3 separate regions of the Homo sapiens genome follow, and regions 2 and 3 are each reported to be linked to region 1. The links are microRNA targets in miRTarBase. Many come from high-throughput screens and were not tested one by one. Region 1 holds a microRNA gene; each other region holds the end of a gene's coding sequence.
Evidence for each region. The annotated mature microRNA hsa-miR-4268 reads GGCUCCUCCUCUCAGGAUGUG and lies in region 1 at 3,969-3,989, opposite strand. An mRNA with a match to its seed (bases 2 to 7 or 8) in the 3' UTR can be bound and repressed. Matches are read on the target gene's strand: a 7mer-m8 pairs with bases 2 to 8, a 7mer-A1 pairs with bases 2 to 7 and ends in A, and an 8mer does both.

Region 2: the mRNA of WIZ is a reported target of hsa-miR-4268. Seed matches in the 3' UTR shown: 7mer-A1 at 905-911, 7mer-m8 at 2,097-2,103 and 7mer-m8 at 2,265-2,271.
Region 3: miRTarBase lists TMEM178B as a target of hsa-miR-4268. Seed matches in the 3' UTR shown: 7mer-m8 at 3,205-3,211.

Annotation. Positions count from the first base shown.
Region 1 is chr2:219,902,544-219,912,831 of GRCh38, forward strand. MIR4268 (microRNA 4268) reads right to left here and starts at 4,022; the gene lies at 3,959-4,022. It overlaps LINC01803 (long intergenic non-protein coding RNA 1803), which reads right to left and starts at 2,346. Exons shown (of 3, transcript NR_146975.1): 1 at 1,972-2,346; 2 at 1,702-1,836; 3 at 1,508-1,610. LOC105373890 (a long non-coding RNA gene) reads left to right here and starts at 2,468. Exons shown (of 3, transcript XR_923927.3): 1 at 2,468-2,563. RefSeq lists an enhancer at 3,821-6,015.
Region 2 is chr19:15,413,596-15,423,883 of GRCh38, reverse strand. WIZ (WIZ zinc finger) reads left to right here. Exons shown (of 13, transcript NM_001371589.1): 13 at 649-3,906. The coding sequence ends at 808. AKAP8L (A-kinase anchoring protein 8 like) reads left to right here and starts at 4,896. Exons shown (of 14, transcript NM_014371.4): 1 at 4,896-4,973. The coding sequence starts at 4,961. RefSeq lists enhancers at 8,845-9,344, 9,345-9,846.
Region 3 is chr7:141,466,874-141,477,161 of GRCh38, reverse strand. TMEM178B (transmembrane protein 178B) reads right to left here. Exons shown (of 4, transcript NM_001195278.2): 4 at 1-6,626. The coding sequence ends at 6,376. Among named protein-coding and RNA genes, the nearest start is that of AGK-DT, 79 kb to the left of the region's middle.

The sequences.
Region 1 (10,288 bases):
CATCAAGTTTGCCATGGCCCCCACATTCTGGTGACACTGGTGTTAGTCAAGGTTTCAGCAGGCTCATAGTAGGATAAATTGAGCAGTTAATTAGAGGATCATTTGTAAAGGAGTGAGCATGGTGTGGGGAAATTGTTCAAGGTTAGTGCAGTCCTTGGATTTAAGAAAAGAGAGTGCAGGTATCACCTGCAGGCCTGAGGGTGTGAGGGGGGGGCATGGCTCCCCTACCCTGAGATGGCTGGGGCTGTGTGCAGACCCCACAGGGGAGGAGCTAGGGGATAAATACTTGCTTCCCTTCCTCCATCTGGTCTGATTTCCTAGCGTTGCTGCCTGTACTAGTCAGGGTTCTCCAGAGAAGCAGAACCACTGGTGTGTGTGTGTGTGTGTGTGTGTGTGTGACAGACAGAGGGACAGAGAGAGAGAGACAGAGAGAGAAAAAGAGAGAGATTCATTCGTTTATTTAAGGAGCTGTCTCATGTGATTGTGGAGGCGTGGTGAGTCCGAAGACTGATGGGGTAGGCTGTGAGGCTGGAGACTCAGGGAGTTCAAAGGCTGTCTGCTGGCAGAATTCCTTCTCACTCAGGGGGAGGTCAGTCTTTGTTCTATGAAGGCCTTCCACCTTCATTGGATAAAGCCCACCCACCTTATGTAGGGTATTCTGCTTCAAGTCCACTGATTTAAATGTTATTCTCATCCACAAAACACCTTCATAGAAACATCTAGAATAATGTTCGACCGTGTATTTGTGTACCATGTCCAACCAAGCTGACACGTTAAAATTAATGATCACACTGCCTCTCGGTCGATCTCAGTCAGAAGCCAGAGGGCAGGGGAATCTGGATGCTGTGGGGGTGTGTCAGCCTCTGAGGCACAGAATGGTAAAGGGTGGACATCGAGGGGCAAACCACTTACCCCAATGTGATGTGGAATAAAGTAAGGGGAGGGTTTTACCTTTGCACCCTCTCTCTTCTGTCTAGAAGCTTGGATTGGGGTCGTGGGTCTTTCTGAACTTTAAGTGTTTCCAGAGACCCTATATAGTACAAGCGCTCCTCCTGCCTCCCTGCAAATGAGTACAAGCATCAAGCAGAAATGAAATCTCTTAAAACACTGCTGGTTTCCTTTTATACTTTAATTTTTTTCTTAAACTACACGAATGGCAGTATAAGCCGTGTGCAATTTCAAAAGGCAGTCACCTAGACGGTCTGGAGAAACAGCAAACTTTCATCTTGAGATCCGTGTGCCGATTTCACTGTAATAATCCCCCCACATCCTGCAACCTGCACTCTGGCTGTTCTGCACTTGCAGAGGATGGTGCAGAAGGACTTAAGTTGTTTCAAGAAAGATTTAAATTAGATCTGATAAGGAGCTTTATTACTGATGCTGTGGAATACTGGGAGGGGGTCTTTCTGTTGGGCTATTTTGGATTTTGGACTTTACTGAAAAACAAATAGGCCAGGGTCAAATTCACATCAGAGGAACACATGTAAAATGGAGACTTGAAGAGTTATTTAGCTAACGAATAAGAAATGGTTTTTAATAATTGGATAATTACCTTAATTCTCCACTTCATTTTGTATGATGCAATGTATTTTGAGTTCTGCAATGATGTTCTGGCGGAAGTGACAAGAATTGGAAAACTATTATCACAAACAGATGACAAAGTGCTGTACTGGAGATACCATAGGTCTAAATTCAGCTGACCTCAGGGATGGCTTCTAGAAGCAGAAAAGCCATGACTGCAGGGGCCACCTGGATAGGGGGATGTAGACCAGCCTCTGCCCTGGTTAGCAGGAAAGTAGCTGGGAAAGCCTCCTTCCCTCTCTTGGATCTTCCTCCCTAAAATGAGAGTCCAGTCATGTCCCAGAACATGGAGCAGAGCCGTGAGCATCACCTCTGCCAGATAACACAGCTCAGATCATTATTCACATGCATGTCATGTATGGCATGGCTCATGGGTGGAGGGAAACCAACCTTTTTATTCTGGCTATAGCCGATTGGACTGGGCAGATACGCTGAGGCCACAGAAAGGCCATGTCTGGGCTGGACATAAGGGATGTCAGAGGCCTCCGGGGTGCCTGGGGGAGAGTCTGCTTAATCCAGGTGCCCACTTGACTAGTAGAAATCAAATCAAATCAAATAAGTGTCTTCTCTTTCAAGTTAATGCTAAGAAATCTGGCAGGTCACTGAACTCGCTACCGCCCCAAAATGCCGAGTGATGCATCTGTCTCCATGAGGTTGCTGTATGTTTCAGAACTGGGATGCAAAGTTCAGCTTCCCGTGACACCCGATTTTCAGAAGTATCCTTGCAAGACATTGCCATAATTCCAGGTGATCTGAGTCCCTCTTTCTTGTCCGCTTGACTGGTTTGACTGACTTGACCAGTACAATTTCATCAAGCTCTAACAGTGTGAGATTCCAATTCTACTGTGATGTAATATGGTGCCTGGGAGGCAGGGTGGTGAAGGAGCTAAGTAAATGGGCTCTGGGATCACACCACCTGGGTCCATTTTGAGCTCTGCCTGTTAGGTCGGGGTAGGTTCAACCCCTGTAGCACAAACACCAGGTAAGAATGCCTTCACCAAGCAAGATGGGTGTTTATTTCATGATCACTTAACAGTGTGGGTGTAAGCAGTTCAGGACTGATATGGCAATCCTAAAATTTGAGGGATGCAGGCTCTTATCTTGTTGCTTCACCATCTTCAGGGTGTTTCTCTCACCCCTGTGCTTTAGGTGGCTTTCCACAACATCCATAATCCTGCCAGAAGAAGAGGGGAGAGATGAAGGGAAGGTACAGAGGGAAGCTACTCACATCACTGCAGCTAAAACCTATTGGCCAGAACTTAGTCACATGGCAACACCAACTGCAAAGGCATTTGGGAAGTGTAACCTGCATTAGTTTTGTATTGCTGTATGACAAATGAGCACAGACTCAGTGGCTTAAACGACACAACTTTATTATCTCTCAGTTTCTGGGGATCAGGAGTGCTCGTCCTTTGCTCAGGGTCTCATCAGGCTGCAATCAAAGTGTCATCCAAGACTGTGATCCCATCTGAGACTCAGGATGCTTGTCCAAAGTTACTGGTTATGGGCAGGATTTAGTTCCTTGCAATCGCAGGACTGAGGTCCCACTTCCTTGCTGGCTGTCAGTGAGTCCGTTCCCAGCTCCTAGAGGCTGGCTGCTAGTCTCTGCCATGTGGCCCTTTCCACAATAAGGCATTGCACCTTCAAGGCCAGCAAGAGCATTCCTCTGACTCTTTCTCTTTAGCAAAGGCCCAGTTTCTTTTAAGGGCTCACCTGATTAGGCCAGGCCCACCCAGAGTCATCTCCCTTTTGACTGACTCAGAGACAACTGATGTGGGACCTTAGCTCCATCTGTAAAATCCCTTTACTGCTATCATATAATACAGCCTAATCTAAAGGAGCAATCATTTCATCCTATTACCAGTCCTACTTGTACTCAAGAAAAGGGGGTTTAAAGGCTATATACACCAGGGGGTAGGAATCTTGGGGACCATTTAGAATTCTTCCTACTTCATAATCTTTATTTGGGTGGCTATATGCCCAGCCAATAGTAATCAATACAATTCTGATTTCTGTAGTTCTATGACTGGAGAAGAATGGGAAAACGATATTGGGGATAACTAGTCTCTGCTATAATAACTTATTATCCATGTTATCTTGTTATTTAATTTTTCTGTGCTTCAGCTTCTCCTATAAAACAGGGATGATGACAATACTTCATACAAACACAGAAATAAAATAAGGGAAAAAAATTCAAGAGTCATCAAAAAGTCTAGCCATATCTTAATGACTAATGAGTACAAAAGGGGCTTGTTGAAATCTTCCCAATCTTGACCTTTTTTATACAAGTGCTAGACAAGTGGAAATCTGCAGAATATTCCCAGCACCTCAAACTCACCATTGCATAACAAATGATGTCACACAGTGAAGATGCCCCCAGGTGACATCACATCCTGAGAGGAGGAGCCGCTAGGGCAAAACCTCTAGAACCTGATGTGCATTTTGCCAGGGAAACCAGAGTTGCACGATTTCTATGAACTTGAAAGTTAATCATGTCCAGTACAGATACAAAGCAAGAGTGTGCATATGTGTATGGCATGCCTGTGTGTGAAATTAGCCACATATTGATTAAACTTTCCTATATGCTGAAGGGATGGGGTGGTTTAGAGAGCCGTTGGAAGAAACAAAGCAATGAACTTATCATGTTGCTTGACTCAACGAGCTCTGGGATTTAGAAACTAAATCTGAGCCATTAGTATGTGGCTTTACTTTTTTAATAGGAAAACATTCCACATAGGTCTAGCAACGTTCACGTTAGGGTTTTTAACACTTTCATATGCATCTCAGATAGCCAACCTGGAGTGGTCCTTGAGTAACACACAATACAAACAATTATTCCAGACATTTCAAAAATGAAGTGCTACCAGCTTCATTGTGTCCCCCAGCTCTGGCGAGTAATGAAAGACATATTCTTAATGTGAAACAAAAGAGGATTGTGAATATTAAAAAGCAGCCCAGCCAGTTAGAGTTAAACCGTCGGGATAAGATATTAACTTAAACCACATGTGAAGTGCAGCTGTTTCTGGTGAAGCTTTCATCAGGCTCAAGTGGAAAGATTGGTGGGTTTTAATATGTGGTTTCCAGCCAAGCCAATAGGAATCTGGGGAAAATGTGTGTGAAATCAGGCCTCTGCTGGGGGGTCTCGGGCTCTGGGCTGGCTTTTCTTTCTGTGAACATAAACAAAGGTAACCCAATGCTGAGGGCAAGGCCTGCTCCATCCAAAGGTTTAGCTGAGAGACTCTGGAGTGACCAGCCAGCCTGTGGAGTTTCTGGACTCTTCATTCTCCCTTTCAAGAGGAATGCATAAATAGGTCCCATGGTGTTAAGAGTAGGGATGAAGGAGGAGTCTTCTTGTATCTGTTCCCTGCCACTTCATCTCAGGAACATCTAGAATTTGTTCAGCTCCTAATAACTGACAGCATCAAATGGTGCCAACTCTATTCGAACTTACTGGCATGCTGGTTGGGTTTCACCTCTGAGGATTTAAATTTGCTTAAGAAAAGTGGTGCTATATACGATGCCTCACCTACCTAAGAACATGAAAATATTAGAAATTAATGAAAAAGTATGAGATGAGTGCAAAATAAGGATTAATTGCACACTATTTCTTTACAAAGACTAAATTAGTTAAATAGCTTAAAGGTTGGTTGGGCTGCTGCCTGATTTTGTCCAGCCAGTTCTGGAGGCCCTAGATGATTGCTTCTGGACTCACTGCTGGGTGACGCTGTCAGCCTTCCACTGCTTACCTCCTGCCTCATAATATTGCTTTCAGCTTCAGAGGTGTGGAACAGAAATAATCTTTATGAGCCCACAAATTCAGGAGTTGTGGGAGAAAAGTGGAAATGTCTGAACTGTACTCATTGACCTTAGGAAAACAGTTGAAATATTACCATTTCTGTGCATTGATTCATATATTTAACATTTATTAGGCAGCTAGATGATTCAAAAGACTTTGCAAAATGCTCTTGGGGATGCAAAGATGTGTAAAAGGGAAAGGAATTGACATTTATTGAGAATATACTATATGCCAGACATCACAGAGGCCATTGGATTACATTTTCTCATTTAATTCCCGAAACCTTGAAGGGGAAAGATTATAAGATAAGATCTTTGCTCTCAAAAGCCTTCCAGTCTGTGATTAAATAGTAGATAAAAGACATATTCAAATATCCATGAAATAAGATATTCTAACTATATGCCAAAGGAGAGGTTTTAATGGGAGTTAAGAGTCTGGAGTCATTACTTGGGGAATGAAAGAAAGTTTATTGGAGAAGACCATATTTGAGTTGGACACTGAAGTTTGGGTAGGATTTAGATTCACAGAGAGGGAGGACAAGGCATGACCCAGGTGAAGGAGAAGATGAGGGCAGGGGAAGCAAAAGGAAGAAGCAATCCCTATAAGTCTCATGCTACTCAGAGGTCAAGGGAAGATCACTTATAGAAGTTTCCCTTATTACCACTTCATGGCTCTTGTACCAGGTGAAGTCCATACCTTGACTTTAAGGCCACACTGTATGAAAAATGCAGGTCTTTAAACACTAGATGCACATTCAGTGCGGTGAGATGCTGACACCATCAGAGGCCTGATCAAATTAAGGCCTGGTGAGGGCAGTGCAGGCTCTCCTTTCCAATCTCATGCTCACTCTGGGGCCCAAGTGCGTGGAGTGGGATGACTGGCCCAGTGGCCAGCACTGTTTCATGTGGGCTCATCTCTCTGTCTAGTTATGATGGGGCTGTGAACTTCAAAGGTTAACTTCACATAGAATTTGATTATGAAGACTGAGATAGGGACCAAAATACAGAGTCAAGTCACTGTGGGTGAGAATATGTCTGTGGAGGTGGGGGCAGTGTTGGAAGGTCAGGATGTTGGACAGGCCAGCCCTGCTGGGGACAGAGAGTGAAGGATTGGTGTTTGGACTGCATTTGGTGTAGGGTTTGGTGGCAGTAGGGTATAAGGAAAAGTTTCGGGTAAGCTTGTTTCAATGCATTGGGGCTACTGGATTGCAGCTAAGAAGTGGAGATGTGTTCTCTGAGAATTAGTCACCCACATTCTACTTCATCATGTTGCTTTTAGGTTGGCACAAAAGTAATTGTGACTTTTGCCATTACTTTTAATTTGGCATTACTTGTTGAGTCTGAGAAGAAAGTAAGTGCCTTTTCTAAAGCAGCCCCATTCCTGATGGAATGTTGAAGCTGAATCCTCATGCTTGAGGTTAAATCAATCAAGTCACTAGGCACCAGGCTCTAGGGAGGCTGCAAGGAAGTTTGGCGGACAGTTTCTATCCTCAGGCAGTTCATTGACCTATAATATTCTCATGAGAAGGTGACCAGTAGTATATGGTGAGTCAGGTGCCTATAAGCCCAACCAGTGACCCAAAATGTTGTACTGGTCTCCTAGGGCTGGTATAACAAAGTACCCCAAACTGGGTGCTTAAACAATGGAAATTTATTCTCTCATAGTTTTGGAGGTTGGAAGTCCCAATTCAAAGTGTCAGCAGGGCCAGATTCTCTCTAAAGGCTCTAGGGAAGAATCTTTCCTTGCCTTTTCTGGCTTCTGGTAGTTTCCAGCAATCCTCGGTGTTCCTTGGCTTATGCCAGCATAACTCCAATTTTCTCTGTGTCTTCAAATCTCTCTCCATAGAGGGACACACGTTTTTGGATTTAGGGCCCACTCTGATCCAGTATGACTTCATCTTAATTATATCTGCAGAGACCCTATTTCCAACTAAGATCACATTCATAGGTACGGGGTTTAGGACTTCAGCATATCTTCTTGGGAGACACAACTCATGCCACAGCAGATGTTAATGTGCAGGCTGGCTGGATAGAAGGACCCTATGAACTGGGATAGTCATGGATGACATCTTGGCATGATGGGACTTGAGCTCTTTATCAAGAATATGTGGTATTTGGATGGAGAAGGGGTGGGCTGGACTCCAAGGAGGGTGGAAGGGGAAAAAGGGAAGAATTATATGGCTGGGGTCACAGAGACTGACTGAAGCAGATTAGAGACTGGTGAGGAGCCAGCCTGGTAGGGACAGAGGAATGAACTGGGGAGTGATGAAGACTGACACTTTGGAAAGAAACTGGGGCCAGATTGTGGAGCTACCCAAGCATACTGGAAAACTGAATGGCTGGGCTTCAACCGTATTTCCCATATTCTGGAAAAAACTCCATTCAACATCCCCAAAAACCTTCAGAAGACAGAGGCAGTCACACATGAAGAGCCTTATGCCCAATCTGCTTCTGAAGTGTATCCCCAGATATCTTGTAAAAGCTTATGGGCCACCCAGTGAAGTGGGTGCCTTGGGTTTAGCCTGAAGAAGACCTACCAGCTCTGGCAAGGGCACTCATGAGGTTAGCCAATATGGCATTAGTAAGGCAGAGCAGTGAGCAAAAGGCCTGGGATCTGCTCTTCTTCTCTTTGGGCATCAGATTTCCCATTTGCAAAAAGCAATGGCTTTGGTTGTGACATGCTGCAGTTTCTTGACTCTATATAATAAAATGGTGTAACTTATGTTTGAATAGACTTAAACTAAGTTCATCTGCAAATATTCCTTCATTTGATACAGCATCTCTATGAGATGGATAGAGAAAAATTTTTACCCCATTTTGATAGATGAGGACATAGACTCAGAGGAAGTTCACTGACTTGCAGAGGCACTGAGCTGGTTAATTAGCGGAGCCAGAACTTGAACACAGGTCTTCAGAATGCTAGTCCAGTGTTTTCCATTCCACACAATGCCTCCTTTATAATCAGAATTTCTCCATGTGCTCATTCATTCAACAAGCAAACATGTATTAAGGGTCCGCTATGTGACAGGTACTCTGATAGGCCCTAGAGATACATGAATAATTAAAGCAGGGTCCCTATCCCAAGAAGGTCCCAGAGTGCTGGTCCAGTGCAAAATCTTGTACATAATGGTCGGGCAGAGACTACACTTCAGGTCGGGTGTCCTCATCCCACCAAGCCAGGCCCGCCATAAGATCAAGGGTCTACCGGGCAATGCTCTTGGGCCAGTTTTTTAAAATTTCAGTTCATAAACATGGAGCTGCTACTGAAGGCACATCTGACTTCTTGTATAGTTTAGTCAGTATCTACTATATTAGCAACACTTAACATCAACTAGAGAGAGGACTGTCAAAAGGGAACTTCTGAAATTGAGTGAACTACTCTTACTGAATTTGTAGCTGTTGTGAAATAACTCTCAGGTCACAGTCTCTTAGATTTGCATTGCATCTCTCAGTTTACAAAGTCCTTTAATAAATGTAATAGCACTTGATAGTGTTACAATCTGAGACGGCATCTCCTTTAGGAACAAGCAGACCTCAGACCCTACGACCTCTAGGTGAGTGACCTTCACAATTGCTTAGCACAGTGAAACCTCTAGCTCCTCATTTGCAAAATAAAGATGGATGATAATGGTGCCAGTCTCATAGGATTTCTGTGTAGGAGGATGTGTGTGAGGTGCCTGGTTGACCTTCGAGAAATGTGAGTTCCTTCTTCAACAGAGCAATGAATAGCTCTCTTGAGTGAGGGAAGCAGCCCAGCACGCTCAGCTGGCAGGCTGTTCTCCACACGTGTTTTAGACTATGCTGGCCTTTGAGGGAAAAGGATGTGGTTCTCCTGACTCCTGTCTCTACTAAGATTTTTGCATAGTCTCCCATAGATAAGCTTGGTGCAAAAGTGATTGCGGTTTTTGCCATTATTTTCAATGGTGCAATCACTTTTGCACCAAGCTAATAGAAACCAGTGAGGTAGACAAATCAGTGAGGTATAATTTGGGAAACCTCTGACTGAGTCTACCATTTTTAGTTGCTTTCAATTTGATTAAATTAGTGCCCAAATGCTTAAAGTGGTATGCCCAAGGTCGTGGTCACCAGCCCATGCCTTCAAATCCAGAGCTCTTTCCATTAAGCCACTTGTCCAAGATACATCCCTCAGAAGTGGTGATATCCTCAATGTGTATGAGAAAGGATATCTTTAGAGATGCTGGATTCAGAGGCTACCCTTCTCAAAGTTCAGCCGGGAGACATGGAATGAAACCACGGCTTTGTTTTACAGCTAATATTTTAACTTAATTTGTTCTGTTCAGCTTGTCCAAATTCCAGGTTGCGGATAAATCAGGATGATGGCTCACACGCTGGTCCCATCTACCAGGGATAAAAGTGACCCAGAAATATCTGGAAGCCCTGGGAGCATTTAGATAGATTCCTTAAAATATGATTCTCCACCCAATCGCCTTGCTAGGGGCGGAGTGTCTCAGGCATAAAAATACGACTTAGGGCGATGAACAGTTAAAGTCTAAGAACTTGTAAGCAATAGAAGCAGGAATTATTCACTCTTACCAGTGCTGGCTCTGTGTTCAGTGTTTGCTCGCCATCTCATACATCTCTTCAGAAGGGAAAAACAACTAGAATTTGCCACTGGGACACATGTATTTTTTCCTGCACTGGAGCTGATGGAGCTGTTGGAAAACACTCTATAAATCTCGTCTCCTGTACCGTGACATTCAGCCCTTTGGGGCAGCTCTCACTTTATGTTCATCCTGCAAACTGCAGTAGATGAGACTTGCAGCAAGACCCAAGGGCTCTGTGTCCAGTATCCTTGCCAGGTGAACAAAGGGAAAGGAGTTGCCGAGGCCTGGGTTGTTGTTAGAAGTTGGGCTCCGTTTTCCCAGCCAGAAATCAAGCTCACATTCCAGCC
Region 2 (10,288 bases), not on the chromosome of region 1:
TTACGAGGAGTAAGTGAATTTAATATTTATAAAGCACTCAGAACTGCCTGGCACATGGTAAGTAAGCACTCAACTAGTGTCTGGCTCAAGAAAAAAGTAGATCTTAGTTAATTCTTACCAAAGTCCACAAGTACATTGAAGAGCAGCGAACTGGGACTCTGAGACGTGAGGTGACTTGCCTGAGGCCATACAGGCCAAGTCAGAAGTCAGAGTCAAAGCCACGTCTTGAGCCATGGAGCTTGGGCTCCAGGCCTCTGTGCTGTGAGGCCTTTTTAGGTGCCAGGAAGACAGGAGGAGGTGGGGGGCTTGGTGCGTTGGGTAGGATTTGCTTCTCTGTGCCCTCTACTGTCTCAGATTCTATGTATCTGCCAGATGGCAGGGGTACCTGGAAGCCAGTAGCCCTTACCTGGCACCAGTGACTTCTGAGCACAGAGGCAGGGGTCTCTGTGAGACCCTGCCATGACCCCATGGTGAGTGGAGGTGGCTGTCCATGGGAAACGCCTGACTTCTGGGTCCCTCTTCCCCCGCCTCCTGGGCTGGCTCTGTCCACACTGAGTAGCAGCAGGTGTGCCCAGGGATGCTGGCAAGGCTATGCTTCCGCCTCTCCTCACAGCACTGGCCACTCCCTCTCTCTGTTCCCCCATGCAGGTTCTGTGAGGTGGAATTCCAGGGCCCCCTCTCCATCCAGGAAGAGTGGGTGCGGCACTTACAGCGGCACATCCTGGAGATGAACTTCTCCAAAGCGGACCCCCCACCTGAGGAGTCCCAGGCCCCGCAGGCACAGACAGCGGCGGCAGAGGCTCCCTAACACAAAAGCATTCCAGATCCCCTCTCGTGCCACCTCTGTCTCCTCTTCTTCCTCCTCTGTGTCCTTGTCCCTCTTCCTCTTTCTTTCCGTTTCCAAAGGAGCAAGCCAAAACCTCAAACCGGCGCCCCTTGGGGGCCGGGCACACTACAGCCAGGGCGCCGGGAGCCAGCTAGCTGCCCTTCCCCCAGCCCGAGGACTCTGGGGCCACAGGGTGTCTTCCTTCAGCCCATGCCCACCTGGTCCAGCAGGGGCAGCAGCCAGGTCTCTGATGGCAGCCGGTCTGGTCACAGGGGAGGACAGCACTCCCCCGTCTAGCAGCCAGGCAGGGCGATGTCTGCCATCCGTGGCCATTTGCAAAGACCCCAAAGACCCCTGTTCTGGTTCCCTCTCTCCCCCATGAATATCCTCTCACACACATGTACATGCGAACACACACAACACGCACCTCGTGAGACCCGGGACCTGCCCCGGACCCCCAGTTCCTGGGTTGAACGACCACATCATGCCACGGTGCTTGCTCAGGGGAAGCCACGCTCCCTCTGTGGGGCCTGCTGGGGCCTGGGAGCCCCCCACTGAGCCCACAATGCCACGGAAATCCTTGTTGGCTGCCCCCGAGAGGGGCCTTCCCAGCTGGGAAGAGCTCAGAGCTGACAGCTGCCTCCTGCCATGTCAAGGCCCCCCAAAGAGCCTCAGGGGCTCTGGGGCCCTGGAGGGTGGGGTTGGGGGGTGGGACTCTCCTCCCCCACTCCTGCTCCCTCTCCCTTTTCACTGTTGCTTTCTATGTATAGCTCCCTAGACCTTTCACTTTTTTAAAAACGCGTTTTGTGTAGAGAATAAGGAACGTGGATCTTTTTATTTTGCAATCCTGGGCCAGCTAGAAGCCAGGAGCTGATTGACCTTTTAACTTTTTTCAGTGGCCACATTTTGGTTATCGATGTACCTAGAAGTATGTAAATTAGATTAAATTTCTCTTCTGGAAACACCCTGGGGCAGGCGGCCAGCGTGTGTTTTTCTGTCAAGTGGACAGGCTGGCATTGGCTGGCAGCCGGGGCTGGGATCGGGGCCTCCTCTGTCCAGAGCGCCATGGAGGCCCTGGGTTTTCCAGTTGGCCGCCAAGCCGACCAGACGCAGCTGGGGATGAGCCCAAGTTCCCAGCTGTTGGCTCTTTAGGCCATGGCTGGGAGGGGGTCTCTGGCTGGCTGGCAAAGCGGCTCCAGTGAGCAGATGAACCAGGGTTCTGGGCAGCCTGTCTGGGAAGGGAGCCAGGATCAAGAAGCAGTTGAGGCTAGAGGAGCTTATCAAAGGCAGGAGCTACCAGCGAGGGTGTCAGGGACCCGTTGGGAGCATTTGGGTGGGGGCCAGTGGGGTTGTAGAGAGCTGGAACTCACCTGCTTTTAATACATGTGACTTCTAGTGAGACACATGCACCCCTGACCCAAGGAACATGCGGGGAAAAGAGGAGCCACTGGCTCCTTTGCGATGTTATTTATTTTCTCGCTCTGCAAATGTTTATTGAACATTTCTGAGATTTTAAGAGATTTTGTTGGCTGCTCCTTCTTGTTTATTGCATGTGGTTTTTCAGCTCATCGTTTTTACTAAACGGTCAAGTGCTGGAGAGTGGGAACGACCTCATGGCGTGTGGACAGAAGGGGCCACCTCTACCCCCAGCCCTGCTTTCTGGGCCCTCCCACCATACCCCTTCCTGGGAAGGAGGGATTAACAGGCTGCAATAACGCCCACAAGGGTGGTCTTGGCCCACACGTCTGCTCCTGTGGGGTCAGGACGCACATCTCGCCTGGTGGCAGAAGGCCGCAACCACTTCTCTCCATCCTGTGCTGTGGGTGGGTGGATGTATCCAGGACTTAGGAAGCAGGGAGAGCATCTTGTGAGCTGACTCAAAGGTGTTTCTTCCTCTTTCAACTTTTCATAAGTCAGTTTTTATTTTTTTATTTTATTTTTTGAGACAGGGTCTCATTTTGTTGCCCAAGCTGGAGTGCAGTGTAGGGACCTCGGCTCGCTGCAGTCTCTGCCTCCTGGGTTCAAGTGATTCTCCTGCCTCAGCCATCCAGGTAGCTGGGATCACAGGCATGCACCACCACCCCTGGCTTATATCTGTAATTTTTGTAGAGACGGGGGTTTCACCATGTTGCCCGGGCTGGTCTTGAACTCCTGAGCTCAAGTGATCAGCCTCCCAAAGTGCTGGGATTACAGGCGTGAGCCACTATGCCCGGCCCGTAAGTCAGTTTTTGAAATATAAAAGTGGTATAGGCTAGATGTGACAAAAAACAGTCAAATGATACAAGAGCTTATAAAGTCATATGGCAAGTTCCTCCCCACCAATCATGCAGTGAAGTGAGGGTCATGTGTGTCCTTGGAAGAGTCACCTCCAGTTCTTGCAGGGGGATGTTTTCCTAAAACTTTCTGAGCATTGCTCTTCTCTGCTCAAGCCACTTCAATACACCTCAGGCAGCAAAGTCTCAGCTTTTGAGCCGTGGTCTCTGAGGGTGTTGGATGTGAACGAAATCAAATCGGTACAATGATGACTGTGGCAAGTGCGATGAAGGAACGAACCTGCAGGGCGCAGAAGACGTGTCCTGGGGCCCTGCCTTGGTTTGGAAGACAGGCAGGCATCCCTGAGGCTGATGGGGAGATGAACCCCGAAGCCAGAGTGCTTATCCGTCAGATCTCTGCTTCATGTTTGGAGTTTGCTCACTTAACACATCAGAAGTGGCTTTGTTCCGTATGGCAGCAAGTTCTGCAGAAGCCTCATTTGGGTGGGGGGAGTTTTATTAAAACAGTTTATCATGGAGAATTCCAACTATACAAAAGTAGAGCAAACAGTAAAATGGACTCTCATCTATCCATCACCAACCCATGACCAATGTCTTCAGCTGTCAGAGATTTATCTTATAGCTCCTTGCTTCCTCCTCCTCTCTCTACCTGTCTGAATTGTGTGAAGCACATCCTGGCCATAAGATCAGTTAACTTCTTAGTATTTCAGTATGTTTCTCTCAACGTTGTAAATGCCACTATTACACCTAAAGAAATCAACAATATCAAAAAGAAACAGCATACCTTAAAAAAAGTTTTAAAACACACGAAGCGTAGAAGTCGTAATTGCGCAGCTTAATGAGTTTTCACAAACACACGTGTTAAGTACTCTTCGGTGCAGCTCTGTCATCTCTAGAAATTATGAGTTGTCCCTGGCAGGGTTTCCATATGCCCAGGAAACAGACTGAGGACATGACTGGTGCCCGGCTGCACTATTGCAGGATCTCTCGAGCCCAGAGTGAATCAGGAGGGTTTTAGAAGCAAAGCTCCCATTTTAACACGTAACTGTCAAGGACCTTGAGCAAATCATGAGTTCCAAGCTTCAGTTTTAAGTGAGGATTAAAAGCTTTTTGCAGGTTTGAAGGAGCATTCGAATGACACACAATACAAACGGAATTATTACACATATAAGCATATGCCATATAAATATATTATCGTTTTGTTACGATTAATCACATTTATTCAGTGCACTGGCACCAGAATGATTTCTTTACACACACTTTGTCACGTAATGTTGAAACGTGTGTCCAGCATCTTGTTTGGTGCTGTTTTAATTTTCTCTTCTCAACATGGCTTTGCTATGCTTGTTTTGGAGCCGAAGGCCAGAGAATTTGAGAGACTTAGCTAGGTCCCCTACCCAGCACCTCGGTGGCGGAGTTGGCATCCCAGCCCTGCCCTGAGCCGTAGACCCGACTCCCTCTGGCGGGTCTCCAGGGTACGGGCGCTCCTCCAGCCCGACCATGCTTGGGCCTTGGGCCTTTCCGTAGTGCACAGCTCCGCCCCCTCAAATTCTATAGGACTCCGCCTCTCTGCCGGCTTCTGTAGGCCAATCACTGAGGCCTTAGAATAACAGAAGGCGGGGACAAGGCGGGGCTCTCACGAGATTGCCAGCAGCTTCCAGCCACTGATATGAGGAGGCATAGAGATAGACAGCGGTTCCTTCCAATAGACGTGAAGCCGAGGCCGGTATGAGCCAATGCGGTCGGGAGGCGGGGCTCGGGTGTGTGTGGAGGGGACCCTGTGGTTAGCAGCAGCTATCGCAGCGTCGGATGTTCAGAGCAGCAGAAGCCGGCGTCGTCGGATGTTGTGTTGCCCGCCACCATGAGCTACACAGGTGGGCCTGGCAGGGTGGGGTCGGGCTCTGCGTGGGGGATGGGACAGGGACGTGCGGATGCCGCACCAGGCTTGCCCGCACCTCCCCTGGGGCCCCGTCACTGCCTTCCCTGCGGTCACAAAATGGCGCCGCTGGCCCGTCGCCTCAGGGTCGCTGCCCTCACGCCTCGTTGCCTCAGCTCTCTGTGTCTGCAGCCGGCGTCCCGGCTCCCGGCCGCCTGATGTCTTGGCTTCTGTCGCCTGTGTCCGTGGGTCCGGGCCTCAGCGCACGAGGTCTCCGCCCCCACCACCTCCGTCCCTGGCCTGCGCTCCTGGACCTCGACGCCTTAGGTTTCCCTTTCTCAGGCCTTGGTCCTTGCGAGCAGGCAGCAGGCTCGGCTGCCGTCGCCATTGTCGCGTCCTCCCCCGCGCAGTTTCTCTGCAAAAACGCCGCAGCTCTACACCCCCATCCCGATCCCACCCACCACCCCCTTTTGTCTATTTCAGAACTGGGAAAGGCGCCAGGCCCTAGGGGGATAAGTAAATATTGGAAGGGTTTGGGCTGAGCGGGGAGCCTTGGGCCCCTAGGGGCTGAACTGCAAGGAATGACAAGGTTCCATGTTAATTCCCTCTGCGTCTGTCAAATGAACCGTGTCCGGTACAGACTGGGTATTGGGAATACAGACAAGAATTCCTCAAGCAGCTTAGAGGCGAGGATCTTAATAGGCAAATAAGCGAGTGTAGGATATATTTTAGGGTGGTCAGTACCGTGCGGGGGTCGCTCCACTACGTGGAGTGGTTGGAGCCTTCTGTAAAGAGGTGACATTTGAGCAGAGACCTAAATGGAGGGAGCGAATAAAGATATCTGGCCCAGGGAGCTTTTGCTGTAAAAGGCTTACGGGCAGGAACTGCCTGGCTTGTTAGAAGATCAGCCAGGGAGGCCAGTGGGAGGCCAATGGGATTTGAAAGGGAGAGTGGGTGACAGATCCGAGAGCCCCTCTCCGCCCCCCGCAATATGCTTGGGCGACTGTAAATCATCACTGGGTGAATTGCCAAGGCCTCCTGGGTTTGCCTTGGCAGTGACTGATGAGGCTTCTCGGCCAGGAGACTTACACTAGGCCTCCCTGTTTGGTGAGGGTATTATAGGCTTGAGCGTGTGTGGTTGCCAGGTAACCTGCATTCTACTTGGAATTTTGAGAACTGAGAATGCAACGTGAGTCTGTGGGGCTCCTTTGTAGACCACTTTATGTTGGCATAGGCAAGAAGGTAGTGCCAGTCCCCTCTACCCTGGCTGCCAGGTCAGGAGCTTTCCAAGAACCCCAGTTTTTCTAGCAACCATCCCCCAGCCCAGTGGGTTCTCATCCAGGGGTGATTCTGCCCCAGATGACATCTGGCAATGTCTGGAGACATTTTTGGTTGTCACATATGGGAGTGGGAGTGCTGCTGGTATCTAGTGGATGGAGGTTTGGGATGCTGCCCTGCTACGGTATACACAATGACACCTACCGCAAAGAAGTATCTGGCGTCAAACATCAGTAGTGCCCAAGTTGGGCAGCTCTGCCAGAGCCTTTCTGTAGCTTTCCTAGTTCAGGAGGAAAGACTATGGGGTTGTTACTGACATCCCTGGGATTGGAATATAATTCTCACCAAGTCTTACCAAGAACTGGAAGACAGTTTCATGGTTTTTAAAAACAGGACTCTTGAAGAAACCAGAAGATGAATGGTTGGGTGCTGTGGGGTAGCTGAGTAATGGAGCTCTTTTTTTTAATAGATGAGGAAACTGAGATACAAGGTCACTAATGACCAAACCTGAATTCCAGCTCTAGGTCTTGTAGGCTGTAGTTCTGGGTTTGGGTGGGCACTGAGATAGCCAAGCTAAAAAAGTAATGATTAGTTTTTCCTTTATCTTGATAAACTGAAAACCACAGTAATTTACAATGTGAGTCTTCCCCTTATTTAAGAAGTAGGGCACTAAAGTCAAAGGCATTTTAATTCACATTTCAGACAACTAATAGCTTTAAGGGTAAGTCCTAGAGGCCTCGAAGCAAATGTTAGCATTATTAAACATAAAAGGTGACTGATAAATCTTTTTATTAACTCGCCCTGCTTTTGAACCCTGTTACCTTATTTATACGTGGGAAAGGAAGCTGCATCTCTAGCACTGAGAGGGGAAGAGGAGAGCAGTGGTAAACAGCACAGAAATATCCAGAATCAGGCCCTCAAACAAAGGTCTGAAATGCTACTGTACTTGTCATAGAAACATTTATTGTCTCACACAGTTTCTTTATGTTTGGAATGGATAGGTGATTTCACTGGGTGGTTCTAGCTTGGAATATCATGAGGTTACATTTAGGATCTCTATGTGGACTAGAGTCATCTGAAAGCCTGACTGAGGCTGGAGGTCCCACCTCCAAGGTGACTTAAACTCCCATGCCTGGCAGGCTGATGCTGGCCAATAATTCTTGGCCCCATGGATCTCTCCCTAGGGCTGGCTGCTGGAGTATCCTCACAACATGGTGGCTGGTTTTCTCCAGACTGAATGATCCCAGAAAGAGCAAGGCGAAAATCCCAGAAGTCACACTCAGTCATTTTCATAAATCTTATTGGTTGCACTGGCTAGCTCTATTAGTTGGGAGGGATCTACATAACGTTAAGAGGCAGGAATGGAGACCATCTTTGAGGATGGTTGTCACCCTACTCTTGGCTCAGATAATAAAGATTGAAGGCAACCTAACCTAATTCCAGTTATCTTTTAATTTTTGGTACTCTGTGTTACTCCTTCAAATAAGACTCTTTTTTTTTTTTAGATCAGGCACGGTGGCTCACACTTGTAATCACAACACTTTGGGAGGCCGAGGCAGGAAGATTGCTTGAGGCCAGGAGTTTGAGATGAGCCTGGGCAACATAGCAAGACCCTTTCTCTATAAAAATTAAAAATAAAAAAGTTAGCTCTGCGAGGTTGAGGCTGCAGTGAGCCATGATTGTGCCACTGTGCTCCAGCCTGGATGACAGCGAGACTCTGGGATTTTTTTTTTGTTTTTTTTTTTGAGACGGAGTCTTGCTCTGTCACCCAGGCTGGAGTGCAGTGGCGCCATCTCGGCCCACTGCAAGCTCCGCCTCCCAGGTTCATGCCATTCTCCTGCCTCCGCCTCCCAAGTAGCTGGGACTACAGGTGCCCGCCACCACACCCGGCTAATTTTTTGTATTTTTAGTAGAGACGGGGTTTCACCTTGTTAGCCAGGATGGTCTTGATCTCCTGACCTTGTGATCCGCCCTCCCTGGCCTCCCAAGGTGCTGGGATTACGGGCATGAGCCACTGCGCCCGGCTGACTGGGAGGTTTGCTGGAGCCCAGGAGTTCAACATTGCTGAGCTATGATCATGCCATTGCACTCCAGCCTGGGCAACAGAGCAAGATCCTGTCTCAAGAAAATATATACTCTTTTTTAAAAAGGAGAAAGGAAAAGTATAAAACTGAGAAGCATTTGTTTTGTTTTGTTGAGACAGGGTCTCACTATGTTGCCCAGGTTGGAGTGCAGTGGCACAAAATCATAGCTCACTGCAGCCTCGCCCTCCTGTGCTCAAGTAATCCTCCCACCTCACCTCAGCCTCCCAAGTAGCTGTGACTACATGTGCATGCCACCATGCCTGGCTAATTTTTTATTTCTGAGATGAGGTCTCACTATGTTGCCACGCAGGTCTTGAACTCCTGGGCTCAAGTGATCCTCCCAACTCAGCCTCCCAAAGTACTGGTATTACAGACATGAGCCACAGCATTTGGCCTGCTTTTGTATTTTTGAGCAAAAAAAGTTGACGAGAGATTGGTTAAAAGCAAGGAGTGTTGCTGCAGAACTAGAAATCCATGGTCTCAAAGTGAGAGGATTGCTTAAGCCCAGGAATTCAACACCAGCATGGGTAACATAGTGAGACCCTGTCTCTCAAAACAAAAAAAGAAAAAGAAAACAAAAATTAGCTGGGCCTGGTGGTGCGTGGCTATAGTCCCAGCTATACAGGAGACTGAAGTAGGAGGATCACTTGAGCCCCGGAGGCTGAGGCCACAGTGAGCAGTGATTGTGCCACTGCACTCCAGCCTGGATGACAGTGAGACCCCCTGTCTCTAATAAAAATAGAAAGAAAGAAATCCGTGGGCTAGGCGTGGTGGCTCACGCCTGTAATCCCAGCACTTTGGGAGGCCGAGGTGGGCGGATCACGAGGTCAGGAGATCGAGACCATCCTCGCTAACACAGCGAAACCCCATCTCTGTGAAAAATACAAAAAATTAGCCAGGCGTGGTGGCAGGTGCCTGTAGTCCCAGCTACTCAGGAGGCTGAGGCAGGAGAATGGCGTGACCCCAGGAGGCGGAGCTTGCAGTGAGCCAAGATCGTGCCACTGCACTCCAGCCTGGGCGACAGAGCGAGACTCCGTCTCAAAAACAAACAAACAAAAAAAAAAAGAAATCTGTGATCTAACATTTAGCTTTATAGGGCCATATAGGGCATATTTTATTTTTTTCAACCAGCGCTAATCAGGCTGATAAATTGTACCAAGAGAACACTTTACAAACCAGCTAAGAATTTAGGCCGGGCGTGGTGGCTCACGCCTGTAATCCCAGCACTTTGGGAGACCGAGGCGGGCAGATCTTCTGAGGTCGGGAGTTTGATACCAGCCTGACCAACATGGAGAAAACCCGTCTCTACTAAAAATACAAAATGCGTAGTGGCGCATGCCTGTAATCCCAGCTACTCGGGAGGCTGAGGCAGGAGAATCGCTTGAGCCTGGGAAGTGGAGGTTGCGGTGAACCGAGATCGCACCATTGCACTCCAGCCTGGGCAACAAGAGTGAAACTCCGTCTCAAAAAAAAAAAAAAAAAAAAAAGAATTATTCATAATAGGAGCCAAAACTGGCTACAGAAGGGCCTGCTCTGCGATCTTTGCAGATGGTATTGTGGAACAGAATGTTAATGTGGTGCAGGGTATAGAGTTAGAGCAGAGATTGCCATTGATCTTGGAGGGTTTGATGGATCGTCTTTCCTTCCTAGGGAAGCACCAGGGCCCCTCTCGCCTGAACAGACACAGATATTTTGCTCAGCAGCTTGCTGACTGTATCTTGTGAGGGTGTGGTAGGCTGTCATTTGCAGTTGCAGTACTCACAGATCACATTACCTAAAGTCTGAGGCCATTTTACTGGTGGCCCAATTGCTGAAAGAACAAGTTTCCAGAGGCCAGTTGAGCAAACAGTGGAGACCGCAGGGGCTGGGTATTCCTTACATTATAAGGCTTTCCCCTGGGTGAACTCTTCAAAGCTGCTCTCAGTGTTTCTTATGGACAGCTATTAATCAA
Region 3 (10,288 bases), not on the chromosome of region 1:
GTCACGCTCACAACACAGACGCACTGGTACAGACGGAGAGGGTCTATGGGTGACCCGGAAAGGAAAGGAAAAGCTCAGCCAGTGGGAGGAATGGGGTTCTGGAGAGGAGAGAGGGATACAGAGTTCCTTAAGGAGCAACACCTGGTCCTTGGGAATGAAGTGTAGGAGTTGCATTTGCTGAGGTTGGTGTTTGCCAAAGAGATGCCAGCTTCTTCGAACTACTGCTGTGCAACTCTTCATGTTCAGACCCAGTTTTCTGTTTTTCACACCTGAACATACACCCCCCTGCAGTTGGGTGGCTCCCCCGTTACCAGCTGGGCTCTATCTACAGAGAGAGCAATGGCTTCCCTTCCCTTGAAGGAAGTCTCACCCTCACAAGGACACTTGATCCGCTGCAAAGCAGAAAGTGTGCGGACCCTTTGGGAAGGGCGTTCTTTTCTTGTTTAGAACCTAGGATTCTGTTTTTCCCAAACAGGATCACACCCAGACACGTCTTAGTGAATGTACCATCTAAAGGGCTTCCTTATATGAATTCATATGTTTTTGACGAAGCTACTGGCTTCAGCAACTGACAAGAGAAAGAAGATCCCAGCTCCTTGAGACTTGGTCTCATCCTAAACTTGAAAGATCATTGAAACCTTTCAGAATCTGATTTGCTTCCACCCATTCCTTTTGGGAATGTACAGCTAGAAATAACGTTAGGAGAATTAAAAAAAAAAATACTAAGGCATTGACCATGTGCCTTGGTTAACAGTTAACTGGTTTAGCTCATATATGCTATTTGCCCCATATGGTTTACTCATTCTGTCACCTCTGGGAATAACTGAGATGGATAAAAGTGCCCTTTGCAAAACTGGCTCTAGACAAAAGGAAGTCTAGGAATAGGTAAAGAAAAATAAGGAGCCAATTTCTCTGGGGGACCTGAATGAAGAATAGAATCCTTTAAGTGTGCTTAAGTGCGACAGGTCCAGCCCTGTTCAGCAACAAAGATGACCTTGCACTCTGGGTTATCCTTCAGCAGCGAGGCACAGACACTTGATGTGAGAATTCCATTCCAGCGGGGGGTCTTCTGAGGGATAATTAGAACATACATAACTCATATGACACTTCATGTTTGCAAATCACTTTGCAATTTCTTTGTCACCCTTAATATACCATGAGGTAAGGTGTTATCACTTATCCTCATTTTGTAGATGAGGAAGTTCAAGTATGGAGAAGACACAGTGCCCAGAGTCACAAATCATTTCAGTGCAGAGCTGTAGTGAAATTTACAGTAACTGTTACACAAGTGTAGCTTAATGAGTGAGTTACTCTGGCTTCCGCATTCTTACATCTATGATTAGATTGAGATGGCAACTGACCAAAAAAAAAAAGGAAAGAAAAGGAAGGAAGGAAAGCAGGCAGACAGGCCCAAAGAGACATCTTTTAGCCCTGCTCCATCCTGCCCCTAAGGTCTGGCATTAAACTTTTAGGCCTCTTTGCTATCTCTGGGGGCTCAGGGCCCTGCACTCTTGCTGCCAGGAACACAGGGTCAACTCAACGCAGACCAGTGCGGTTCTGTGGTGTACACTGCTCACATGGCCCCAGCTGCCAACCCAGAGACAAGCACTCATTGGGGAAGTTTTGAGGTCATGACCATTTGGATTGGGCCCGCGGTAGATGCCTCAGAGTGACTGGATTATGAAAAATCTTGTAGTCTTTTTTGTATTTTATTTTTCTTATTTTCTACAATGAGCAGTTATTATTCAGGAAAGAAATCCAATACTCAGTAATCACATATTCTAAGAACCAGGAATAATGTTTAAGAAACATTTTGCATCATGGCAGCATCAATGAAAAGAGGGCAAACACAGCCCCAGACATTGAGAGCTTTGAGAGACAGACACGAGAATCACGTGTGTATGTCAACTCTGGTGGGGTTCTTAAAAATCTGCCCCCTTAGTCTATCCCACACCAGCTGGAAGATGGCATGGAAGGCAACCCTGCTGGTGTGCACCAGCTCTTCCTATCTGCACTGAAATCACCTCTCACTCAGAAACATCGTATTTCCCTGGAAAGGGCTGGCTGTGTCCCCTGGGATGGATGTGTCCCCTGGGATGGGTAAGTCCCCTGAAGACAGGGAACATTTTCAGAAAAGCAACTTCACTTTAACTACAAGAATCAACCAAGTATCCCCCACAAACCACACCAAAGGATGACCAGAGTGTATCTCTTCCCACTCCTTCCCCCAGATATTTGAAAAATCACTTAACACTCAGCACATAATCCAGGTGAAGAGAGAGTCCATTCTAAATGCCTCTGGGTGATGTACCTGAGTTCATTATTCTGAATTTGACCCAGGTGGGCATCTTTGGAGACCTAAGCAGCACATCCTCCCACTAAATCAAGACAGCTACACACAGTGCATTCATTTCCGGCATCTTATCATGAGTGTGGATGAATATTGAGATATAGGGCCCAGTCTCAGAGTCCTAGGATATCCTACCCTCTTGTCACAGGAGAGGCAAGCATTGCTAGGTGGGACCACTCATCCCTGATGGGAAGATATGCACCTGGGCTCAGGGCGCTTAAGAAAGTCTTTGTCTAGATTTGGAGGAGTTGTCCAGTCTCTGTGACTCCATGATCCCTGAAGTTGAAAGGGTAGGGTTGTTGAAAAGCTAAGGCTTGGAGGAGGATTGAAGCTGGAACAGGCACAGATTTTATTTTTCATATTTTGATGCCAGGGAGCCACAGACCTCCTTATAAAACCTACAGCCACAATGAACAAGGAAGGGGGCTGCTTGGAGTCTAGGAGCCTCTCTACAGATGAATCACTTGTCTATGTTAATTGACCAAAGTTGATGCAGGAGAAAGTAGGAGTGAGTAGAGAGAGAGGAAACGGAAACAGAAGAAGAAACCGTAACTCCCAAAATAAGGAGAAAAAGATATGGGACCTCTCTCTAGGTAGAATACCTCACTTTCCTGAATCTCAAGGTAGTAGAGTAGGGAAGGAAATAAAAGTTGCAATGGGCCCCAGGCTCAAGGTTGACTTGCATGGAGCTCAAAGCACATACATGTTCATATGCCAGTAAGAAGTTTGAACTTGACCTGGGGTTGCGGCTGGTGACTTTAGTGAGGTCATTGACCCTAAATGCCCTCATAAGGTTGGGTTCCACTTTGATTTGGAGTTAGCAGAGTCTGACCTACAGAGCCTCACAAGTCAAGGCTCCTCTCTTCCTCCTCCTCATCTCCCTCAGCTACCTCACAGCCAGAAAGCTTCCGTAACTGGTTGGAGTCACATGTTTTAATCTGTGGTCAAGCCCTTATGCTAGAGGGATCAAGGTCACCTGAGAAGTCCTCCCATTGGCCAGGACTTGCCGTCTGAAAGGGGCCTCTATCCTGGTCATGTGGCTGGGCGTCTTTTGCTTCCCAGCAGGATCAGATCCCAAAGTGTGTTCGTATTTATCTGGTCCTGCTATCAAAGAAGTCACTCAAAGCCCCTGCTCTGGGCTGGTGAGTTGAGCCCAGGTTGTTTACGTCTTTCCTGGGAGCTTTCTAACATTTCAGGAACTCTCAAGGTTTCAAAGGGATGCAGTAAGCTTTGCTAAATGTCTGTCACAAAGACAATAATTGGATAGAGCAGATAATCTATTCATTGAAAGTATGGGATTTTTTTTTAAAAAGAGGATATAAATAATGATAGGTCTGTGAGCCAGCATCCTCAAACATGATTACTTACAAAAAGTTTAAATGGTTCATAGCAAATTTCCCCATTTAGAATTTTTCCCCTCTCTCCTGCAACTGGAAAAAAGCTGGAATTTCAGTGTGGTCATAGACAAGCCCTCTCCCCCAAATGGATGCTTGTGAACCTGTCTGTCCCTTCCTCGGCAGAGCCCCTTCAGGACGCTTGGAAGGAAGACAAAAGGCCTCTCAATCTGAGATACTTTTCTTCACTTTTCCTTAAGCCCAAGTATGCCCTTCCCCTTAAGGGAGAAATCTAACTTTTCAAAGAAAATTAGAAATAAAATGCCCAATTGAAAAACTGGGTTTTCCTGAAAATTATTTCCCTTCTCATAGAATAAATCCTTTGTTTTAAAAATAATCCTTAGAACCCCAACTGGAAGCTAACAACTTTTCCCGTTGCACACCTTACCCTATCGCCCAGCACACCCACACACAGGGAACTCACACATGAGACCTTTTGCAGAAGCTGACCAGAGTCCCCGGTAAGGAAGTCTTGAGTAGGGCACCCACACCTGTGTGCAGGTGTGTACTGACACAAACGTACACAAAATGCACCAGAGAGATACACATACAGAGAGATCCACATTCAACCCCATTCATGCACATCAGATGTCATATCATATCCAGATATGAATTACATACACGCAGTTCAAAGGAGCAGATGAGGGTGGAAGATAGAAGAGAGAGAAGGTAAGTGGTTAGTAGGTGAGAAAAGGAGGAGAGTGGTAGGAAGATGGGTTGGAAGACGTGTAAATGAAACAGATTACACAGCAGTGGAAGAAAGGCTGCTGAGTGCCTGGCAAAGCTCCCAAAGCATATTTGTTTATGAAACAAGGGGATTCTCTGCTACACAGTTGACCATGGCTACACCAGCTCAGGGATTCTCACCTGGCCTCCCCAGGGCTGCTGGGCACCAGCAGGCTCACTGAGATGACTGTGAGCGGCTCCAGCCCACTCCAGCAGACTCCCACCCCTACAGCGTTCACAACTCTCTGGCTGACTTTGCTTGCCAGCACCTGCAGTGCTAATTTGCTCAAATGAGCCCGAGACACTGGGGTGGATTTATTCCACCTCTGTTTGGGTGCTAGCCACTAAGACTGTTATTTTGGGATTCATGGCCTTGAATATCAAGAGGGAAAGGAAGAGGATGGAAAGAGTCAAGAGTTCTGCATTAATTTACACAATATCATACAAACTTGAGCCCATGGGAAATGGAGGTGCTCTCTCTGCATGTGACCCACTTCCTTTCGTTTGTACAGAGGTCACCCCTAGGGAAAGGGGAGATGTCCAGTGACAAAGGACAGCTTCTATAATGGGGAGTGAAGGTCTTGTTGGTTTATGTTCTTGTACAACAGCAACCAGAGCAACATTTCTTCTCTCTCCTGAACTGTGTGTTCCCCCTCTTCTCTCATGGCTTATGTGCCCAGCTGTGTCTTGAACTTCCAAAATTAGAGGACTAAATCGTGCAGAGTCCCAGAGCTGTAATGTGGAGAACCACGGGGGTCCTCTGGCCCAGTGGCTTTGTTCTTGGTTCTGCCCTCTGGAAATTTCAGCTATACCAGAAACAATTTAAAAAAACACAACACAAACAATAAAACCCCACGCTCAAGAAACATCCACCACACACACACACACACACACACACACACACACACACGCACACACACACCACTCCAGGGATCTGTAGCTGCAGAATTGGCACCCTTATAGGCCTGTCCCTCATGACAATTTCTAGGTCTCTGGGCCTCTATCTGGGGCCATGAAACCACTACAGTGATAAGAGAGACAACAGTCATAATGCAGTATTTCCATTTAAAAGGTAGAAAAGAAAAAAAGGAAACCGCCCAAAGTACACATGCACGCACACCCACACACACACATCACAGCATGACTCCAAGGCTCCAGTCTGCCCAGGGAGTGCAGGTGCGGCTGGGGACAGGGTGGCCTCTTGTTTCACTGGGTGTAAGGCAGCTGGAAGGTAAGACTGGGTTGTCTGAGCATCCACCGAAGCGTCCTTTCATTGATGCAGATCTTGCCTCTCAGCATGTTCTCTTCCCTTCCCACCTATGAAACATGGTCCAAAAGTTTGGCAGCAAAGAGAAAACGTCCTTCTCAGTTTGTTTTCTCTTCCACTCCTTGTGTGTTGCTGGTGGGCTGGGAAGGAAGTCCGAACAGGAAGAGCAGGAGAAGAAGTGATTCTGAAAATGGCCTCAATAATTTGGTTACATTCTAGGAACTGAGGGCTTTGTTACCCTGTGATATGACTGGTTAGGGGTGGCGTCCTCTCCCGTTGACCCAGTGGGTGGCACTTCCTTCTCTACATCTGTGCTGCCTCAGACCCCTTCCACTGTCCCTTCACCACCCCATCCTCGCCAGTGATGGGGATCAAGACGCGGTCGCAAGTGGTGGTGTTTGCTCTGTCTTCAAGAGACCATGAAGCCAAAAGTCAAGAACTGATGGAAGAGCCACAGGATGGAAAAACTTTCCCCATCTCAGAGATGAGGCAACACAAAGTCCGGCGAGATGCAGGTGCCTGAGCCAACTCAACTCTACCTTGGCACTGGCATCGTCTTGATTTAGTTTTGTTTTGTTTTATATATGTATATTATATATATATATTTATATATATATATGTATGTATGGGTTTGTTTTTTAGCACACTGTCCCATTCTCGGGTCTGGATTTAGGGTAGTTGGTCCTCGGGACAGGTTGAACAGAAGGGGCTAAGGTACAGAAGAATCCCGAGATGAGTGTGAGGCCCAGGCCCCCCCATGCACAGAACATGGACCAGCCATAGCCATGGCTGATGTCATCAGGGAGTCCGTACAGGTAGCGTGGGTAGCGTGACAGCTCAAAGTTGATCCCGGCCACACAGGTGCACAGTGAAATGATGCAGAAGGTTCCTGGAGGACAAGGGAAAAGACACAGGATGGGGAAATGGAGAAGGAAAGGGGAGAGGAGCGGGAGAGAGAAAGAGAAAAGTTAATATTATTACATTTTCAATTTTCTTGAGTAGGAAAAATGGGAAGTCTAGGTAAGAGCAGGTTATCACCAAGGTCAGTATCTGGAAATATTCATGGAGCAGAGAATAGTATTAAAGGATCATCACTTCATCACTCTCCAATAATGGCCCAGTCTTGGACACACTCGGGAAGTCTCTCCTTTGGGAAGATGCTAAATAGATATCTCATGAGCATTTTGTGTGGGGTAGAGTGAGCAGAAGAGCATTCAGTTCATTTTCCTAAAGCATTTTAAATTCATTGTATTTCTTTGGAGACATGGAAAACACCTACTGTTTGCTACTTCTTTAAAGAGAAAAACAATCTTTTCTCTTTCTTATACATAACAACTTACTCATACAGTATTAGGTTTTCCTTTAATCTGTTCACCAACAATTCTTCCAAAACCTGGAAATATTTTCCTTTTTCCTATAAGACATTTCCCAAAGTGTTCTCTCTGGAGTGCTAACGCTATGAGATCCTTTACAAAGTGGGAGGCAGAGTCAAAAGACGGGGAATCCTACTCATGACTTCTCACCCATGAACACGCATCATCCACGTTAATATTAAGGTAACTCATCTACCCTACTTTATGCAGAATTTCACAAACTTATTGATGATGGGACGTCCTCTTAAAAACATTACTTATATCAGTCTCTAATAAGAAAACTGCTATAAGAGGTAGAATGATATAAAATGGTTTAGAATTATAAACCCATTTTAAACTAATACAACAAGTTTTTGGTGTGCCTAAAATGAATTCAATAACTTTTCTCTGCATTTGCCGTGTTTTCTGTTCTTTATGTAACCACTGATATGAGAGCAATGAGCAGAAGAAGGATGTATAGTTTGGGAAGGCTGGGCTGGGTCAATGGAAGGAAGAAAAAGGAAAAGCACTTTTATAGGGAAGGAACAAAAGGAGGTGCATTCAATTTTATATTTATTATTAAAACTCTTGCTTTCTAACAGCCAAGTTTCTTTAAGATTGAGACTTGTTTCTTTAAGATCTAGCCTAATTTTTTCCAGAAGCTTCCTGGAAGACAAGGAAGAAAATATAGAGTGGAAGAATGAGGCTCACCAGCTCGTGATAATTTAAATGGCCACAGTTGACCCTAAAATAAGTATTAAGTGCTATGTGCTAGGAACTGTGCTAATGATATACTGGTTAAAAATGAATTATTTAGGCAGAGAGTGAGGGTAAAGAAGTCCTCGGTAAGGTTTTCCTTTTAATAAAAAGCAACCCCCAAATCATTTCTTTGAGCAAATGAGCAGCCTGTAAAATTGAGCTGCAGACATAGATAAGCAAGCTGGAAGCTTGCATGGGTGCATACTGGCAGCTGTGCCAATAGGAAGAGGCTGCCTGGGGGCTAGGCATGTTCAACATGGTGGCTGCATCTTCCCTTTTCTTTGTCAACCACATGAACAGTAAGGAGGAAACAAGATGGTGCCCGCCAGGTAGAAAATCCGTTTGCATAATGAAAAGATTAGGATGGGGTGGCCAGCTTCTTCGTGCCCTATGTAAATGTCACACCCGGTTCAACCAATCTTTGAGCCCTATGTATCAGACGCCGCCACCTCAAGCCGGTCTATAAAACCCTATGCACTTCGCCACAGACTGGAAGTCCCACTTGGGCACCCTTCTCTCTCTGCAAGAGAGAGAGCTATTCTCCTTTCTCTTTCTTTTGTCTATTAAACCTCCGGTCCTAAACCCACTTCTTGTGTGTCTGTGTCCTCGAGTTCCCTGGCGTGAGATGACAAATGTCGGATAATTACCCCAGACAGTGACACTGCCTCACTAAATTTGTGGCATGTACTAAAACCTTAATTCATAAAACAACTCTAAGATGTGGGTTATATTATCCCCATTTTACTGATAAGGACATTGACGCCCAGAGAGCTTAAGTCATTTGCCTAAGATCACACAGCTAGTAACTGACAGAGTCAGGTTACAAACTCAGGCAGGCTAGTTCCAGAGCCTGCAGTCTCATCCACTGTACTGTTTACAACTGGTGCCAGGCAAAGTGGGTCACTTCATGGGTTTCCCTTGTTTCACACCTAGGTTCCAGATGCCTTCTCTCTCACTCGGCATGGGTTAGGGCAGTTTGTAGTTTTGGAGGACTCAAAGCAGATCACTGAGCCCCACACCCACAGTTTCTGGTTCAGGAGATCTGGGGTGGGGGCCTGAGAATTTGCATCCTGAAGAAGTTCTTGGGGCATGCTGATGCTGCTGGCTCAATGACCACACTTTGGAGCTATAGGATTTGAAACAAGTTTTTACTGGAGAAAGATAAAACTTAATCGGCCAAAGCCCAGATCCAGAGGAAGAAATACAAATGGATTGTACATGTGAAAAATGGTCAATTTTACCAATAACCAAAGAATTGAAAATTAAAAGCATAATGATAATCTATCAAATCAGCAACACTTTGTTTTATTTTATTGTTGTTTTGCTTTTTTTTTTTTTTTTTGAAAGATCATCTCCAAAACTAGTAAGGGGGCAGTAAAATAGACAATCCCATAGACTCCAGGGCGAGTGTAAGCTGGTGTTTCCTTGCAGAAAGGTGATTTTTAAAATACTCATACCTTCGTCCTAGTAATTTCACTTTAAGAAAATAATCCCACCTGGGGACAAATATTTAGGTATGGACATGTGTAAGATTTAGATATGAAGATGTCTGTGGTGAGGGCGCATTGAGGAGCGGCTGTCGGAGGGCAGACCAAATGAAGCCCCAGATACTGGGCAAGCACTGTTTTCAGAGCTGAGAAGTTTGACCTTCATGTAGGGTCAAGGCACTTCGGTGACTTCAATCTGCATTTCCAAAGACCACTAAGTCAGAAGTGTAGAGGGCAGCCCAGAGGTAGGGAGACCAGTTAGGAGGTTGCCGTGGTCATCAGGGGGAAGGGGCAAGTCTGGCAAGGTGGGAGCAGAGCTGGGAGCTCCGAATGGCTTAGTAGATGATTGTTTACTCAATGATTATTTGTAGAAACAACGGAAGGTGACCTGGGCACAGTGACAGTATGACTAAAATGCATTTGTGTCACACATGTATGCATTTGTATTTGTGCATGTGTGTGGATGCATTTGTGCATGTGTGTGATGTGTGTGTGTAGTGCCATCAATGCTTGTGAGAACAGTACTCCAAACTTGTGGGAGTTACAGAACATCATAGTTTTTTTCATGTTGTGCACTAGGGCTCAGACTGAATTCTCTGATGGTCCCCAGGGTGGATTAGGTCTCAACCTAGACTCCCTGAATCAGAGGGTCTTGGGGAAGAGCATGGGAATCTATAGTTTTTACAAGTTCCTCAAGATGACTTCTGTTGGTCAGCCTGCTTGAATCCTTGTGTGGGGCAAAGGTGCTTTGTATGACCTGGAGAAGTGATTCCAGGTGGGTGGAAGCAGGGGCAGGAGAGGAGAATGAGGCAGCCTGTAGGACACAGCCAAGGCAAGAGCAATTGCCTGGGGTGGGAGAGTAAGAGGAAGCTGTGTCTTGGCATTAGTTTCAAATAAACCAGATTCCAGCAGACCAAAGCCAGCCTGCTCGTGCCTCACCTACTGTGGATGCT